2 linked regions of the Homo sapiens genome follow. The protein of the gene in region 1 purifies or fractionates together with the protein of each later gene. This does not show direct contact. Each region holds a gene or a part of one and is shown on either strand. Other genes may lie near its edges.

Region 1 (4,321 bases):
GTCGCCCAGGCTTAAGTGCAATGGCACAATCTCGGCTCACTGCAACCTCTCTCTCCTGGGTTCAAGTGATTCTCCTGCCTCAGCCTCCCAAATAGCTGAGATTACAGGCATGCACCACCACACCTGGCTAATTTTTGTGTTTTTAGTAGAGACAGGGTTTCACCGTTTTGGCCAGGTTGGTCTTGAACTCCTGACCTCGGGAGATCCGCCCACCTTGGCCTCTCAAAGTGCTGGGATTACAGGCATGAGCCACTGAGCCGGGCCACTTTTTCCTTATCAGTCAGTTTTTACAAGTCATTAGGGAGGTAGACTTTACCTCTCTGTGAAGGAAAGTATGGTATGTTGATCTACAGAGAGAGATGGAAAAATTCCAGGGCTCGTAGCTACTAAGCAGAATTTCCAAGATAGGCAAATTGTTTTTTCTGTCAAATAATAAGCTAATATTACTTCTACAAATATGAGACCTTGGAGAGAAGTTTCCAAGGACCAAGTACCAACATACCAACAGATTATTATAGTTTCTCTCACTCTTACACACACACACACACATATACACATATGTAATCCAGCATGAATACCAAAATTCATTCAGGGTAGCCACCTTTTGTCTTAAGCGAGAGATAATTTTGATGTTTGAATGGAATGCTCCCAGGATATTCTCTTGTCATGGTTATTTTATATAAAATTCAAAAACCAATTACATTATTTCCTCTGTAATCTTTTACTTTATCAACTAATGTCTGGCAAGTGTGATGTTTTGGGGAAGTTATAGAAGATTCCGGCCAGGCGCTGTGGCTCACGCCTGTAATCCAGCACTTTGGGAAGCTGAGGCGGACAGATCACGAGGTCAAGAGATCAAGACCATCCTGGACAACATGGTGAAACCTTGTCTCTACTAAAAATGTGAAAATTAGCTGGGCGTGGTGGCACACACCTATAGTCCCAGCTACTCGGGAGGCTGAGGCAGGAGAATCGCTTGAACCTAGGAGGCGGAGGTTGCACTGAGCCGAGATCACGCCACTGCACTCCAGCCTGGGCGACAGAGCGAGACTCCATCTCAAAAAAAAAAAAAAAAGAAAGATCCCAGTTTATCCCAGTTTATCCCTTATTCTTCCTCAATTCTCAAGATTTGTTTTTAAGTTAACATAACTTAGGTTAACACACTCTTTGTAAAATACACTGTTCAATCTACAGACTCAGTGGTTAGCTTCCTGTTAACTAATTTCTGTTGACAGGTACTTGGATATTTTATTTAGAAAGTGGTTGCCAATAAATTAGTTATAAGTCGCCAGTTTCACTGCCTTGTGAACACATAATTATTGTGGTCTCAGTATTCCCTATGGTGGCTTCTCCTGCTCCTGGTATTGCCCTGAAATGGGCCAAAAGCCGTGGCTCCCCAATACTCAGGTTATAGAACATTGTCCAGGTACCACCTAGGAGAGCCCAGCCTCACTGAAAGTATTCAAATTTAGGAATGGGTTTGAGAAGTAGGTAGCTGGTATGTGCTTAGCACAAGAATCTCTCTTCCTTGGGTTAGTCTGTTTCAAAACTGAAAACACTGTCATTCCTTAAGAAAATAGGAAAAAGTATTCCAAACCTCTGTCACTAGAAAATTTGCCATATTACCAAATCTCAAAAACCTCTCAGGAAATGAGAAAGTCCCAGTTTCTGGTAAACTATTTGGGCCCTTTTCTCAAGTTCTCCAACCAGTGCTATTTCCTTGAGGTGAGGCAAAGTTACTCAAGATCATCGCTGCCACTCAAGGCCTTGATAGGGCAAGTGAAAGGCATGGACCATTATTATATTGATCACAGCATAAGCTGTGAAAACCCACATCTTCTCCAAACATCTGCTTGGAGCATTATCATCGCATAGTTTGCTCTGGTGTTCAGGGAAATCGCTGTTTCATAGGAAATCACATGGCAGTGGGATGGGAGTGTTTCCTGACCTGCCGATGGTACTGGCACCTGAGCAAGCATTCCTAGTCCTTTTTGGTCTGGGCCTCTTGTTCTATCACAACCACAAGCTGTTTAAAATAAAACGTCAAGTCACAGGCAGGTCATTTTATCCTGCGTGAATCAATTGAAGAATTGAAGTCCTGGTCAGCTGTGATTGTTGGCTTTGCAAGGAAAAAGAAGGAACACTCCAAAATGCTAAATGCTTTGAAGAATAGTGACATGCAAGGAAGAAAATTCCATGCAATTTGGAGAAGAAACATTTTTCTAGGAATCTAGTAGCTGAGATATTTTATAGTTTAAAAACAGACTTCCAATATCTTGAGAATACAGTTAGCTCTACGAAATAAAGAGGAGTCAATAATATATGCAACTCTGTAGTCATTCATTATTTTATCCAGATTGACAGAAGCAGAGGAAACCAAGAAAAATGGAAGTGGTAAAAAAAAAAAAATGCAGTAATTGCCAATATTTACTGAGCATTTACCCTGTGCTAGGCCTTGTTATAGGCGCTTAGATTGATTTTCTTTTCATAACATCCCTAAGAGGTAGGTATTACATGCTCATTTTGCTTATGAGGAAATCTGCTGAGAGAGATTAAGTAATTTTCTCATGGTCACAGCCTCAGTCTTTTAGACCACGGTGTCAAAAGAAGTTCTTACTGTGAGTCAGGGTGGTGCAGTGGAGAAAGCGTTTGGGGAAAATCCTGACCCAAAAGTGTGCGTTGGGATGATGTGGAGATCATTCAATTTTCTCTTGTAGCTACAGCTTTGAGATGCACCCATTGGTATCCACACTGGCCTGCTGTCCTCAAATATTTCTCTATGTCTTGTTTACTTGAGTAGTGCAGAAAAGCTGACGTCCTGGGTCTGCTCTCGCATGCATAGGTGAGGTTTTCTCTGTAGCTAGTCATCTTGCTAAACCATATTTTTGGTCACAAAGAATCAGGATGAGAGAAAGTAGATAAAACCATGGAAACTCGAGGTGCCACCGGAAGAGCAAACCAAAGTATATTGATCTGCTGAAGCTATAATCCAAGTACTAAGTATACCTTCAGAAGTTGTATGCATTGTTCTTGGGGCAAAAAGGAAATCAAACATCTGCCCTTCCTCCCACAACCTCTTTACTTCCCTCTCTTCCTAACACTGTATCTCACATCTACAGCTGCAGGCACACAGATATGACATACAGCTTGATATCTTTATGTGCAAAGGCAAAAGATGGCTATGGATATAGGAGGTGGCATTTAAAAGAACAATATCCATGTTTGATACTGCTTTCATTATCAATAATGAAAAGGTAGCCTTTCAGCAGAACAAAGTAAGGTACAGGTCGTTTGGAAGCCATTTCAGTCATTCACACAGTGTGATCCACCATTACGAAGCAGAATTTGAAATCAAAAGACAATAGTACCCATATACATCAAACTAGGAGTTCAACTGGGGTCAGTCCTTGGACTGCACATACAGAGTTGGGCTGCCTGACTCTCAAAACATTGCCCTTGCTAATTTGCGTTGCTCACTTCCTATTGAATCAGGGATGATTTTTCTTTGCTGTAGTGAATCAGCCCTGCTACACTGCAAGAATCAAGCCGATTCACAATTCACATCAATTCCAGGAGTGACGGCCAGATGGCAGCATCTGGCTAGTCAGTTGGTGAGTGAGTCCACCTCCAGTCTTGATTAAACTCTGCTGCTGGGAAGTAGCAATTCTGAGCATAAATGTCTTTGATATCCTGAATATTTTGGGTGTGGGATGAGAGAGGCAGTAGATAGTGGAAAGAGCACAGGGTGTAGACTAAGATAGGCCTGGATTCCTTTCTTTAATCTGTCAATGAAAGCAATGAATGTTCTGAAACTACATGGCAATGCTTTTTTTGTTGCCACTCTGGCTTTTTTTTTTAATGCTATAAAATATATGCCTATTTTTCACTGCCAAGAGGTGACAACACAATGATGCTGCAACCAGAGAAGACAGACAGCTACCAACAACTATTGACAAGACAGAAGGAACATCAAGAATAGATGCAAGACAAAGCAATGTATCTCCATGGCCTAGATTTTTTAGGTTATGCATAGAAACAGCAAGGAGAAGAAGACACAATCCAAGTTTTCTTTTGAGAATATTGTGCTGTTTAAATTTATTTTTTAAACATTTCTTAGCTTTTCTTATTAGTCAATTTCATAAGCCTGGGAAACATCTTTACTCTATCCATTTAATTGCATTTGTTCATTAGCTTACTCATTTCACTTATTAGTTCATTCAAACAGTAGCTATTATCAACTGTCTTCTAAGAACTGTAACTGGGTATTCTGGTTTTGCTTTTTTTTAAAAAATAGAATTAAAAGGATTTCCAAAAGGACCTG
Region 2 (3,500 bases), on another chromosome or scaffold:
AGCATGTAGGGGATGCTTACGAGGCTGGGGAAGGCTCCTGGGAGAAATGACATCTTAAGCTGACAGCTGTAGGTAGAATACAAGTTAGGGGAAAGGGAAGAGAGGAGGGTATTTCAGGCTGTGCCAAAGGCCAAAGCAACTAAGGCCAGCTAAGGAAGTGAAGAGTCAAGGATGGTGACTCAGAATACAAGTGGGATCAATTATAAGAGGTAAGACTAAGGAGGTGAAAAAGGCAGGACACTCAAGATTGACTCACCAGTGATCGTGCATTTTTGTAGGTATAACTAACTGGGTTCAAGGTTGGAAGAAAAATGGGTGGAAGACAAGTGCAGGGAAAGAGGTGATCAACAAAGAGGACTTTGTGGCACTGGAGAGGCTTACCCAGGGGATGGACATTCAGTGGGTGAGTATCTTAAATGTTCATGTCCTATGGCCATTATGACCAAATAAGCTAAGTTTACTAGAGATTAATGGTTTATGTAAGTGGTTTAATGACATAACAATTTCCATGATATTAATATCATAATGTATATTACAACGTATTTGAGGCTGGGCGTAGTGGCTCACGCCTATAATCCCAGCACTTTGGGAGGCTGAGGTGGGTGGATCACGAGGTCAGGAGTTCAAGACCAGCCTGGCCAGTATGGTGAAACCCCATCTTTATTAAAAAATACAAAAATTAGCCGGGCATGGTGGTGTGTGCCTGTAGTCCCAGCTACTCAGGAGGCTGAGGCAGGAGAATCACTTGAACCCAGGAGGCGGAAGTTGCAGTGAGCTGAGATCGCGCCACTGCACTCCAGCCTGAGCAACGATATGAGACTCCAAGACCCCGTCTCAAAAAAAAAAAAAAAATATGTGAGCCTGGGCTCAGTGGTTCACATCTGTAACCCAGCACTTTAGGAGGCCCAAATGGCCTGACTACTTAAGCCAAGAAGTTCGAGACCAGCCTGGATAACATGGGGAGACTCTGTTTCTCGAAAAAATAAAAAATTAGCCAGGGGTAGTGGCACATGCCTGTAGTCTAGTTACTCAGGACACTGAGGTGGGAGGATGACTTGAGCTGGGGAGGTCGAGGTTGCAGTGAGCCAAGATTGTACCACTGTACTCTAGCCTGGGCGACAGAGTGAGACCCTGTCTCAGAAAAACAAAACAAACCCACCCACATACACAAATTTGATTATTTTCCTTATCATACAAGTAATACAGTTTTTTGGTTTGGTTTTTGAGACAGGTCTCACTCTGTCACCCCAGGCTATGGCGTGATCTCATTGCAACCTCTGCCTTCTGGGTTCAAGTGATTCTCGTGCCTCAGCCTCCCAAGTATCTGGGATTACAGGCATATGCCACCACGCCTGGCTAATTTTTGTATTTTTAGTAGCGATGGAGTTTTGTCATGTTACCCAGGCTGGTCTTGAACTCTTGATCTCAAACATTCCACCTGCCTTGGCCTCTCAAAGTGCTGGGATTACATTTGTTTTGTGTCACTTCCTATATGTTTTTGTTTTATGACAAAAAGGTTTACAACTAAATCAATAATCATGTCAAACTTTTTTTTATTGTTTTGAGATGGAGTCTCGCACTGTTGCCCAGGCTGGAGTGCAGTGGCGCAATCTCGGCTCGCTGCAACCACAAGTAATACAATTCTAGTGAGAGTGTCACTAGGCATAGAATACACAGGCAGTGTGGTTTGAGGGATGTTCTACAATCCTTATATTTTGTTAAGAACACGAAGTAACACCCAACCTGGGCACATGGCATTACTATGACAGCTGTATGTCACCCTGTTCATTTCTTTGGAATGCATCATAATGTTAAATAAAACTATCAGTGTATTTTGTTTCAAACAATAGTAAGGTTGTATGATTAAAGCCTTGGTAATAGAACTTTTATTCCAAGATGGAAGCACTTTTTAAAATCATAGATCATGTTTATTAAAAAGTTTTTTTCAAGCAATAGAGAACAAATTACACTGCAGCCACTGTCTCAACCCTGCCTTGTTCTGCCTTCCTGGAACCACTGATAATAGTTTGGTAGCCTGATGTGTAAATTTGCTTTGGCAACATAAATGTAAACAGTGGTTAAATAAGTACATTATTTCTGACAGCACTGCAAGGGAAGCGTGTGTGTGTGTTGCATACATATCCGTCCACCCATCTGTACATACATGTGTTTTGCCTGGAAAGCTTATCAAGTCCCATTGATAAGTGGGGAGGAAATAGCAACATGAACGGTAAAATCCAATTTGTGAAAAAACAAAATGGAATGTTCGTAAATCACATCCATTGCGTAAACGCATGAAGAATGGACAGCGTGCTGTTGAGGATCATGTCTGGGGAGAGGAGCGTTGAAGTTGAGCTTATGCTGTGCAGTCTGTTCTGAATGGTTTTTTATGATGACAATATAGTCATGTGTTGCTTATGTAAAGATGAGTAAAAATAAAAGGAAAACATTTATCTTAACAGATGCATGTTCCTGGTCATTCGGGATTTATAGGCAATGAAGAAGCTGACAGATTAGCCAGAGAAGGAGCTAAACAATCGGAAGACTGAGCCATGTGACTTTAGTCCTTGGGAGAACTTGAGCCAGCGGCTGTCTTGCTGCCTGTACTTACTGGTGTGGAAAATAGCCTGCAGGTAGGACCATTGCAGTGATGGGCAGATGCGTCTTTCACACGGAATCAGGCACAGTGGCCTTCTGTGACATGTGTTTATAAAAAATGGTTAAGTATATAATAAATTGAACATCTTTGAGATTGGAGAATTATGTGAGATTTCCACATTATGTTTACTGGGTTCAATACTGTCCTTGCTTGTTTTATTGCAGGCAAGCAAGGCAAATGGCCTAAAATGCTGTGGCTTATATTTTGATAAGAAATCAAAAAACCATTGGTTAAAAGATGCAACTCAGAAGTCTGGAAGTATTCTGAAAGCATCCATTTACCGTCCAGTTGACAGGTTTGAGTCTCCTGCTTGTATAGGTGACTTGTGCCCATGGGTACATTAAAGGAACATGCTGCCCAGGGCCTGGGCGGACAGCTCAGTGGGCAGGATGTGTGCTGGGTCTCAGCCCCATGTGCCTGCTTGCTGGGCAGTTAGTATAGGGCAAAGCCTGCCTGCGGCGACCCTGGCTGCTAGGCCATTCTCTAGGAACAGCTGCGACTCATAAAGACCAAGAAGCATAAATAAACTTTCAAAAATTTATTTGGCTCTTTCGTTAAAAACTGTGCAAATTAAAAAAAAAAAAAAAAAAGTAAGACACCGGCTGGGCACAGTGGCTCACTTCTGTAATCCTAGCACTTTGGGAGGCCAAGGCGGGCAGATCACTTGAGGTCAGGAGTTTGAGACCAGCTTGGCCAACATGACGAAACCCTGTCTCTACTAAAATTACAAAAATTATCCAGGTGTGGTGGCACGGGCTTGTAGTCCCAGCTACTTGGGAGGCTGAGGCACAAGAATCACTTGAACCCAGGCGGCAGAGGTTGCAGTGAGCCAAGATTGCAC

Evidence for each region.
Region 2: the proteins of RNASE4 (region 1) and RNASEH1 purify together in Homo sapiens (co-immunoprecipitation; one large-scale study listed by IntAct). This does not show direct contact.

The regions. Positions count from the first base shown.
Region 1 is NC_000014.9:20,694,336-20,698,656, forward strand, and holds part of RNASE4 (ribonuclease 4 precursor), read left to right. Parts: intron 1-4,321.
Region 2 is NC_000002.12:3,544,834-3,548,333, reverse strand, and holds part of RNASEH1 (ribonuclease H1 isoform 1 precursor), read left to right. Parts: intron 1-278; coding exon 279-403; intron 404-2,442; coding exon of another isoform or gene 2,443-2,462; coding exon 2,463-2,549; 3' UTR 2,550-3,500. UniProt on the Homo sapiens protein: Endonuclease that specifically degrades the RNA of RNA-DNA hybrids.